Regions from separate parts of the Homo sapiens genome. Here region 1 is linked to region 2. Evidence: fine-mapped expression QTL. A gene starts in region 2. The other region holds a variant in brackets. All regions are shown on one strand. Distances are from middle to middle. Region 1 overlaps LRRC8B (leucine rich repeat containing 8 VRAC subunit B). Region 2 holds the start of LRRC8B (leucine rich repeat containing 8 VRAC subunit B).

What was found.
Region 1: its variant is fine-mapped to the expression of LRRC8B in whole blood (INTERVAL, PIP above 0.99).

What each region holds. Positions count from the first base shown.
Region 1 is chr1:89,555,058-89,559,449 of GRCh38, reverse strand. All of the region lies in intron 1 of LRRC8B (leucine rich repeat containing 8 VRAC subunit B), which reads right to left. Among named protein-coding and RNA genes, the nearest start is that of LRRC8B, 32 kb to the right of the region's middle. The variant C/G (reference allele first, on the strand shown) is at 2,038.
Region 2 is chr1:89,522,372-89,526,763 of GRCh38, reverse strand. It overlaps LRRC8B (leucine rich repeat containing 8 VRAC subunit B), which reads right to left and starts at 1,935. Exons shown (of 6, transcript NM_001369817.2): 1 at 1,742-1,935. RefSeq lists enhancers at 1-408, 409-910 and a silencer at 1,612-2,071.

The DNA.
Region 1 (4,392 bases), 33 kb before region 2:
GTTGCTGAAACTCCTGGACACAAGCAATTGTCCCACCTCGGCCTCCCAAAGTGCTGGGATTACAGGCATGAGCCACCGCACCCGGCAGGAAGTACTAATTTTAACTGAAGATAAAAAGGTATTAGGACCATGGAAGGTTCCTAATACTAGCTTATCCCTTAAGCATTGGGGTTCAGTCTTGGGCCTGTAGCTTCTCTACTCACACATATGCTATGCTCGGGTGACATCCTGAGCATTATGCTTAAGGTTTCATCCGCCACCTCTGTGTATATGGTGAGCCCAGCTCCCTAACCCCAAGCTGCAGAATCATCTCCCCAACATCTTCCTGGCTATATACCGAGATGTGTGGAAGCAACTCAAACAGCATGTCCCAAACTGCATCTACCGTTTCCTCCCACACCTAGATATCATACCTGTCCTTCCTTGATCCCCGAATCTCAGGTTGATAGCAACATCAAGGGCTAAGGCATTGACTGCTATGGTTTGGATGTTTGTGTCCTCTTCAGAATTCATGTTGAAGCTTAATCCTCAGTGCAACAATATTAAGAAATGGAGCATTTAGGAGGTGATTAGGCTATGAGGACTCTGCCCTCAATGATGGGATTTAGTGCCTTATAAAAGGGCTTGAAGGGGTAAGTTCTCTCCTTCCGTCCCTGTTGCTTTTCTACTCCTACACCATGTTCAACGTCCAGAAATCAAATCTGTAGTATCTTGATCTTGGACCTTCCAGTCTCCAGAGCTGTGAGGAATACATTTACGTTACTTATAAATTACCCAGTTTTAGGTGTTTTGTTACAGCAGCACAAACAGACTAAGGCAGGCACCTAACCCAGAAACTTTCTCTTCCTCTATTCCCTCAAATCCAATGGTCTCTTAAACTAGCCCCTTCTACAATCTTGCTACCACTGTCTTGGATGGGGCCCATGTCATCTTTGGGCTGGACGACTCTGAAATTGCCTCCTTTCTTGCCCTCCTTAGTCCCATTTCCATACTGCAGTCAGAGAGCTCTTTCTAAAACATGTCACCTCTTGACTTGTTGCTTTGTTATTATAAAGACAAAGTGATGTCTCAGGGAGGGTTGGGGAGGCTTGCCAATGGGAAGTGAGGGGAAAGAGTGGTGATCTCCAGCTTCTCTTGCTTTCTGTTTTATTGGCTCTTGCTGTTTCCTTCCCAGGAGTGCTAAGTTTGACCCCAAAATGCAGGGCAGACTGGATTATGAATTCTGTGATCACAGTGATCACTGATCACTTGACAACAGTGCAAACATGACAACAGGATGCTTCACCCTGTGACTCGCTGTGGGCACTCACTCAGCCTCACAGTTAGCTATGGCCACCTCTTGCTTTATCATGCTGCCTGTCTCATGGATTCCAATCAGTTTGGAACCCTGCTGTGATGGCAAGGGATTTTTTTTTAAGTCTCTGGCTTTATTTCTATCTATACTTCACTGGTGTCTATGCTTACAGATACTAGGCATTTTTACAGAAGTTTTCTTGACTTACTGGTCAGCAGCAGTCACTGCTGTGAGAGTCAACCCTGCACATGTTAGAGTAATTGCTCTACTTGCTGATCTGTTACTGTGTAAATGTTCTAGAGCTGTTTTAGGTAAGTATAAATTTCCTAATTTCAATGTTCCCCAAGCCGTAGCAGGGGAACACACAACATAAAAACACATAAATAAAAATTAGGAAAAACATATAAATAAAAATTAGGAAACTTTTATGTATCTGCTGCTGACTGAGTACAGTCTCATTTTGTTTCTCCGCTCCTCGCACTAGTGAGAGTGAGAAGCAGGGGCTGGTTTTCCATGGCAGCAGTGTGGAAAATGAACACTGGACTGAGTCCCAGGCCTGCCTCCACCATCATCTGCATGGGCTTAAATCACTCACTAAATACAGGCCTCCATCTCCTCAGCTTTAAAATACAGATAATCACACTGGCTCAAGAATTGATATTAGTGGTAAAATAAATATCATGGAAGCACTCTGAAATCATTGCAGTAGCAAACAGATGCAAAAGAGAACTCTTATAAAGAAA[C/G]CTAATTCTTTTACTAGCAAAGTGATTTAAAAAGAGGATGCTTTTGGCCTTGGGATGGTATCTTTGAAAAAAACAACCCAGGAAGTGAGCTTTATTTATGCCACTGTGGTTCCAGGGAAACAAAATAGCAAGTGTTGCAAAGACATTGACATTTCATCATATTTGGGTCCTACTGTGAAGTCAAAAAGAACGCTTCAAAAAAGGCATTGAGGCCCAGGGGTTCAGAAGAACTATGTGGCCCAAACATAGAATGTCACTCATTTGTTTCACTGTGACAAAACAACCATCTCAGTAGAAAATTCTTCTCCAAATCTGCCTTGCAATAATGGAATGATAATGGATCCCTTAATGTCTGTCAACTGGGGATTTGGAAAAAGACAAAAACAGAATGCGCACAATCTCTGGCTCACTGTGCCAATGGAGTGCACACGCCTAACTGCCCAACCCAGAGAAGGCTTTTTAAAAGATTCCAGTCAGCCAACACTGCTTATCTGTTCCAGCTCCTATTTTCCATGGAGGAAGGTGTGGGGAATGAAGCATTGGGCAAGAGCATTCAGAAAGAAACCAGTCTGTTTTGAAAGAGCAAGCTCTTATGTCACTTATGATTCAGGTAAAATGTCCATTTTTACCTTGGTGTTAAATTAATGCTTCATATTTGTAACTTGGTTAATGGCTGCTGGTAGTCAAAATCACTGGTTGCCATTTGCTCCTCAGCTGGAGAGGGAGAATGTCTGGTTTACATTTAGGGTAAATGCAGAGTGAGATGTCTTTTTTTCTGATATCACTCCCTGTAACACCAACTGGGTGTCCTAAAATTCAATCCTATTCTGACATTAACTACTCAGAGTTAGCATCAGACTCCACAGGTTTAAGGGCTCCATTCTACAAGACTGCCTCTGCTTCAAACTCAATCACAAGTCCCAGGAATCCAGGCTGCCTGTACTTCTGTTTGACTTGACTATAAATTTGGGGGTTCCCATAACGCTCTCTTCAAATTTGATAATTTACTAGAGTAACTCATAGAACTCAGGAAAACACTTTACTTACCTTTATTGATTTATTATAAAGGATACAACTCAGGAACAGCCAAATGGAAGAGATGTAAAAGGCAAGGTATTTGAGGGCAGTGGGAGGATGGAGCTTCTCTGCTCTTTCCAACCTCACCACCCTCCCAGCACTTCGATGTGTTCACCAACCTGGAAGCTACCTGAACTCCATTGTTTAGGGGTTTTTATGAAAATTTCATTATGTAGGCATCATTGATTAAATAACATTGGCCGTTAGTGACTGAAAATCTCCAGTCCCTCTCCCCTTTCCAGAAGTTGATGGTGGGCGTAAAAGTTCCAATGCTGGAATCACATGGTTAGATCCTCTGGTGACCAGGCCCCATCCTGAAGCTACCCAGGTGCCTACAGTGAGTTACCACATTAGAACAAACTTAGGTATGGTTAACAGGGGCTCGCTATGAATAACAAAGGACACTCTTATCAGGAATGGGGCTCTGTGATGTGACATGGGGGCAAAGGCCAAATATGACTTTATTACACACATAACATGATGCTGTATAAGAAAAGTCTCACAGGAGAGCGAATTCTTATTCCAACTGGCTGATGCAATTTCAAACAGTGCCAGATAGTTCACTTAAAAGGTCAAGCTTGCTTTCAAGGCCAAAACAAGGCAGTCGTTTAAGTCACTGATGCCCTGAGTCAATGACTAAGAAAGTTATTTCCTAAGGGACACCTCCTTGACATGATGACAGGTCACTTCACAACATGCTCCTGTAGTTCTCTATCCCTTCCATTCATAACATTTATCACAAACCTATAAGTAATTGTTTGATTAAAGGTTTATTTCTCTCTGAGGTCTGGTCTACATGTATCATGCTTATCAATGCACCCCAGGGCTTAGCTTGTAGAAGCTGCTACTAAATATTAATTGAACAGATACAAGAGTTTTAATTAGACCTCCTTGTTTGGAAGCAAAAACTGCAAAAATATCTTACAATCTTCATACCTTCTTACCTTCAATTTACATCCCAAATTCTACATGACATGAAAGGCTTCCTGAATCCTTTAGCAGAGACTAAAGACTCCATTTGAGCCCCATCAGCAGAGAAGACGAATTTAGCTCAGCCATAGCATTCAGAATAAGTTAGGGCAGCTCTGGGCACTCTGAAGTGATAGAGTAAGGTTCTTCTAAAATAACGCACAAATAACTAATATGAATCACATAGAATGCCTACATTCCAAAAAAGGTGACAGGTCATTTCTCCACATTAGGCTGGCTTCGGGCTTCATAACTCAGCAGGATTCTGCAGCTTCACTTGGTCTTAGCAAAGAGGAGAAACATGGGCCC
Region 2 (4,392 bases):
TAAAAATGTTGTTGGGGATACTAAGTATAAGGAAAGTGCCATGACCCAAGGGTGCACTCAATGACAACATCACCCCCATTCAAGAGACCTCTTTTTAGCTTACAGAAATATCAGACATGTTAGGGCTTATATTCTAAAATTACACAGGCCCAATTACCTTGGGGGTTGGCTGTCACTTTATATTCTCTGAGTAGAGCTGCTGACAAGGAAAGCCAGGAGAAAAAGAAAGTCACCTCGGCACCCACAATTCAGAGAGCATTTGGGGTCACACCTGTAATCCCAGCACTTTGGGAGGCCGAGGTGGGTGGGTCACTTGAGGTCAGGAGTTTCAGACCAGCCTGGCCAACATGGTGAAACCCCGCCACCACTAAAAATATAAAAATTAGCTGGGCGTGGTGGCGGGCCCCTGTAGTCCCCGCTACTCGGGAGGCTGAGGCAGGAGAATCACTTGAACCCAGGAGGTGGAGGTTGCAGTGAGCCGAGATCGCACTACTGCACTCCAGCCTGGGCGACAGAGTGAGACTCCGTCTCAAAACAAAACAAAGAAACAAAACAAAGAGCATTTGGGGTTCTCAGGAGGTGTAGCCTGTACACATAGAGGGTACTGGAATTGTTTAAAAAATTACACTGCAGTTTGACTTCTTTTCCATCCTCACTCCTACACCTAGGTTTAGGGGACAGAACCATCTGATAAAGATAAATCTGTTTTAAGATTTCTGGGGTGTTCTGCAAAGACTACTATATCATTTGCAAATAGGTTGTCTTTTAATAAAAATCATGCTACGTAATGTCTTCTTAATATACGCTGAACAAATTGCCTGTTTTAATTTGGCTATATATCTACAATTTAAAATGTTCATACTGTTATCTTTTACCAGTGGAGTGTTTTTTTGTTTGTTTGTTTGAAGTCTTTAGGCGAAGTGAATTTATTCAAGGAAGTTCACATGTCGGTTTTGTTCTTTTAGAGGGGTGTCTTTTTGACCACAAAGAAAAAAAAAGTTTTCCACAAATGTCATCTAACTAAAGGCAATCTATGGACTTTAGGAAGTCAGTTGAGCACACAGATTAATGAGCCAATACTGAGCCTCCTCCCTTCTGACCTCTCAGCACCTGCTCAACTAAGCTCAGGGGAAACTCTTGAGTCTTCTTCTTAAATTGGTAACGCTTGCCCTTTCTTTCTCAAACAAATCAACGCCCAACACCACCACCAAATTATAGGCAACCAACGCGTATCCAACAGCATAAAATAGTTCCCAAGAGCATAAAATAGTTCCCAACAGCGCCAGCGCAGGGGGCAAAACAGAGCGACCAAATGGGGGCACCCTCAGGGGAGTTGCGCTCATCTGGAGCGAGACGCCAGCCTGGGAAAGCGGAACCCCTTTCCCGCCCCGCCCCGAGGACTCACGCTCAGGTGCAACGCCGAGACTCCCGGGGGAAAGAGAGGTGACCGTCTCGGCGCGACCGCCCACACCTCTTGCTCCAAATGACCCCAGCACACAGGAGAGGTCCTCTCAGCGTGGGACTCCGTCTCTCCCGAAGGCAGGGAGCACAACGAAGCGGCCACTCGTCTCTGCAGCCGCGCTACCGGCCCGCAGCCTGGCTCGCAGGTGAGGCGTGAACAGGTAACCGCACCTGTTCGGCCAGCCCCACCTGCTGCGTCCCCGTATCCGGTCCTCCTCCTCCACCACCTCGGTCGGCGCGGCTCGCCCTCCTGGAACCGGGGTGTCACGCTCCGACCTACCTGCGCGACTCCAGCCCCGGACGCCCGCGCTCCCCGCGGCGTGCTCCTGGGCCGCTCCGGGCGGGCAGGCTGCGGCCCCGCGCCCGCACTTTCCCGGCTGCCGGAGGCTGCGGGCTCAGCGGGAAGCCCCGGCGCTGTCCGGCTCGCCGCCTCCGACCGGCTCCATTGTGACGCGACGCGTTCCGCTGGCCAATGGGCGCTCGGCGGCGCGAACCGCTGACTAAGTTCGCGGGTGGAGGAGGAGGGGACGGGGCGGAGGCAGGGCGCGGAGGCGGCTACCACGGTGGTGGCGGTAGCAGTGGCGGAGGAGGAGGAGGAGGAGGAAGAGGAGGAAGAGGCTGCAGTCGCTTCGGTAGCTGCTCCTGCTGTGAATTTTTCAGCTGCCTGGGCCTGAGTGTTTGCCCAGCTCTGGGGCTGCGGGAGCCAGTGACTCACCTATCACTGCTGGAAACAAAGCGCAGCTGCCATCTCCCCGAGCGCGCCATGTGGCCATCGCTGCCCCCTCGCCCAGCCTGGGGTCCGCAGGAGGTAGCGCACAGCCATACGCCCCGCGGAGCAGCTGGAAAGAGCGGGGACTGCTTTCCAGAAGCGGGAGGGAAATGGGCTTCGGCGTGTCCCCCAGGCGCGCCACACCGGTGACTTCGGCACTACACCGCGTGTGTCGGGCCCCAGCCTTCTCACGTGTGCGTCCCTGAGTAACTTGGCATTTATATAACGCGTGTTGGGCCCTGAGGGAAAGGTCGGGTGCAGCACGCGGGAACCTCCTCTTCGAAAAGGAAGTCCCCTTACTTTTCTTTACCCTGCTTAGAAAGATTGCAGGGCCCAGCCTCTGTGAGGGAGGGTTTACAGTTGTACCAACTAAGCGGCTTAAGTTCGATTCTGGCCTTCCAATACCATTGGCTTCTCTCAAATGTCGTTATCCTCAGGATAGGGAGGGGACCACATGGCCGAGGGGCGGTCCCTATACTCATAACCTGCCTTTCACTGCGATTCAACTGCAGAGACACCTCAACTACTGCCCGCTTGCTTCTCTCCCAAGTGGCACTGCATTTGAAGGCCAACAATATTCCTTACGAAACAGAATTAATCCAAACCCACAAATTCTAGGGACATAAATATTTTTATCATCCTCATCCATTTCCCCACTCTCACCCTTACCCCAGTTTTAACTCAGTCTCTGCCCTGGCTATTATCTTGAGCACACTGATTCAATTAGGCAAGATTTATGTCTTTTAGTTGCTATGGTGGTCACATCTCCATTTAAAAAAAGAAAGAAAAAACAAGTTTGTACCGGCATCTCCCAAAGGAATAAAATGAAGACGAACAGACTCAGCATTTGGGGCATCTGAGCAGTTTGTGTAAATGGGAGTATAGCAAATGCCCTATCGAGTTAATATGAGACAAGAGTTGTGTCTCAGACTGTTCAGATGAGGACTACAATTTGAGTCACCCTGAAAGGGAAAAAGAAGGCTGTCTTTGTGTCACTGATCTGTTCTTTTCTTGTTCACTCAGTCCATTCTGGAACTGCAGATATCTTTTTTCTGAGTCTTGAAGGAAAAGCTGAAAGAACATTTCTTCACTTGGTCATTCGATAAATTTTTATTGAGTTTATATGTGTGAGACACTGGGTATGCACAGATCTACAAGTCTAATTTAAATTTAGGTTTGATCCTTACAGGAGTATCTGAAATTCTCTCAGGGACTTTCTGATTAATTATTTTTGGTAGAAGAAAATTCTAAAAGACTCTGTCACTACTTTCACAGCCAGATTTACCCAAGTCTAAAATAGTGATTAAAAATTCCATCATGGATTTTAAGCACCAAAAAAATGACAGGCAGGTCTCAATCGTTTTAGAGGTTTATTTTGCCAAGGTTAAGGACATTCCCCAGGAGAAAGCACAAATACAGGAACATCTGTGATCTGTGCCTTTTGCAAAGAGAGTTTTTGAGGACTTCAGTATTTAAAGGGGAAAGAGCCAGCAGGAGGGGAAGGAGAAAAGAAAGAAAAAAAAGGGAAATGGGAAGGTAGGCAATGAGGGAAGAAGTTACATTCTTGTGAGGCTTTGATTAGTGCCCAGTGAATTCACATTTTGCGTGTGAAGAGTGGGTAGAGGAATACTGATTATGTGTTCCTCTCATGCTCAGTAAATCTACATTTTACATAAGATAAATGTGAAAATAGGGGGAAAGTCAATTATGAATTTGTCTTGGGGTGGGCAGAGGGATGATTTCCAAGTCTTGTCCTTATACCATACATATGAAGATGAGCTGTTATTGTCAGAGTGAGATTCAACAGAACTGTGTTTTAGGGCTCATTTATAGGAGGGATATGCATTCTGAAAGATTTAGGGACCCACAAGGCATTTCACTGTAAGCAATTTGTGAGGGAGGCTATCTGGGGAGATATGTGGCCTTCTATTGTTGCAGCTACCTGGTAACAACAGAAGGCAGGTTTTTAAAATTTTTTTATTTTTTATTTTATTATACTTTAAGTTTTAGGGTACATGTGCACAACGTGCAGGTTAGTTATTTATGTATACATGTGCCATGTTGGTGTGCTGCACCCAGTAACTCGTCATTTAACATTAGATATATCTCCAAATGCTATCTCTTCCCCCTCCCCCCACCCCACAACAGGCCGTGGTGTGCGA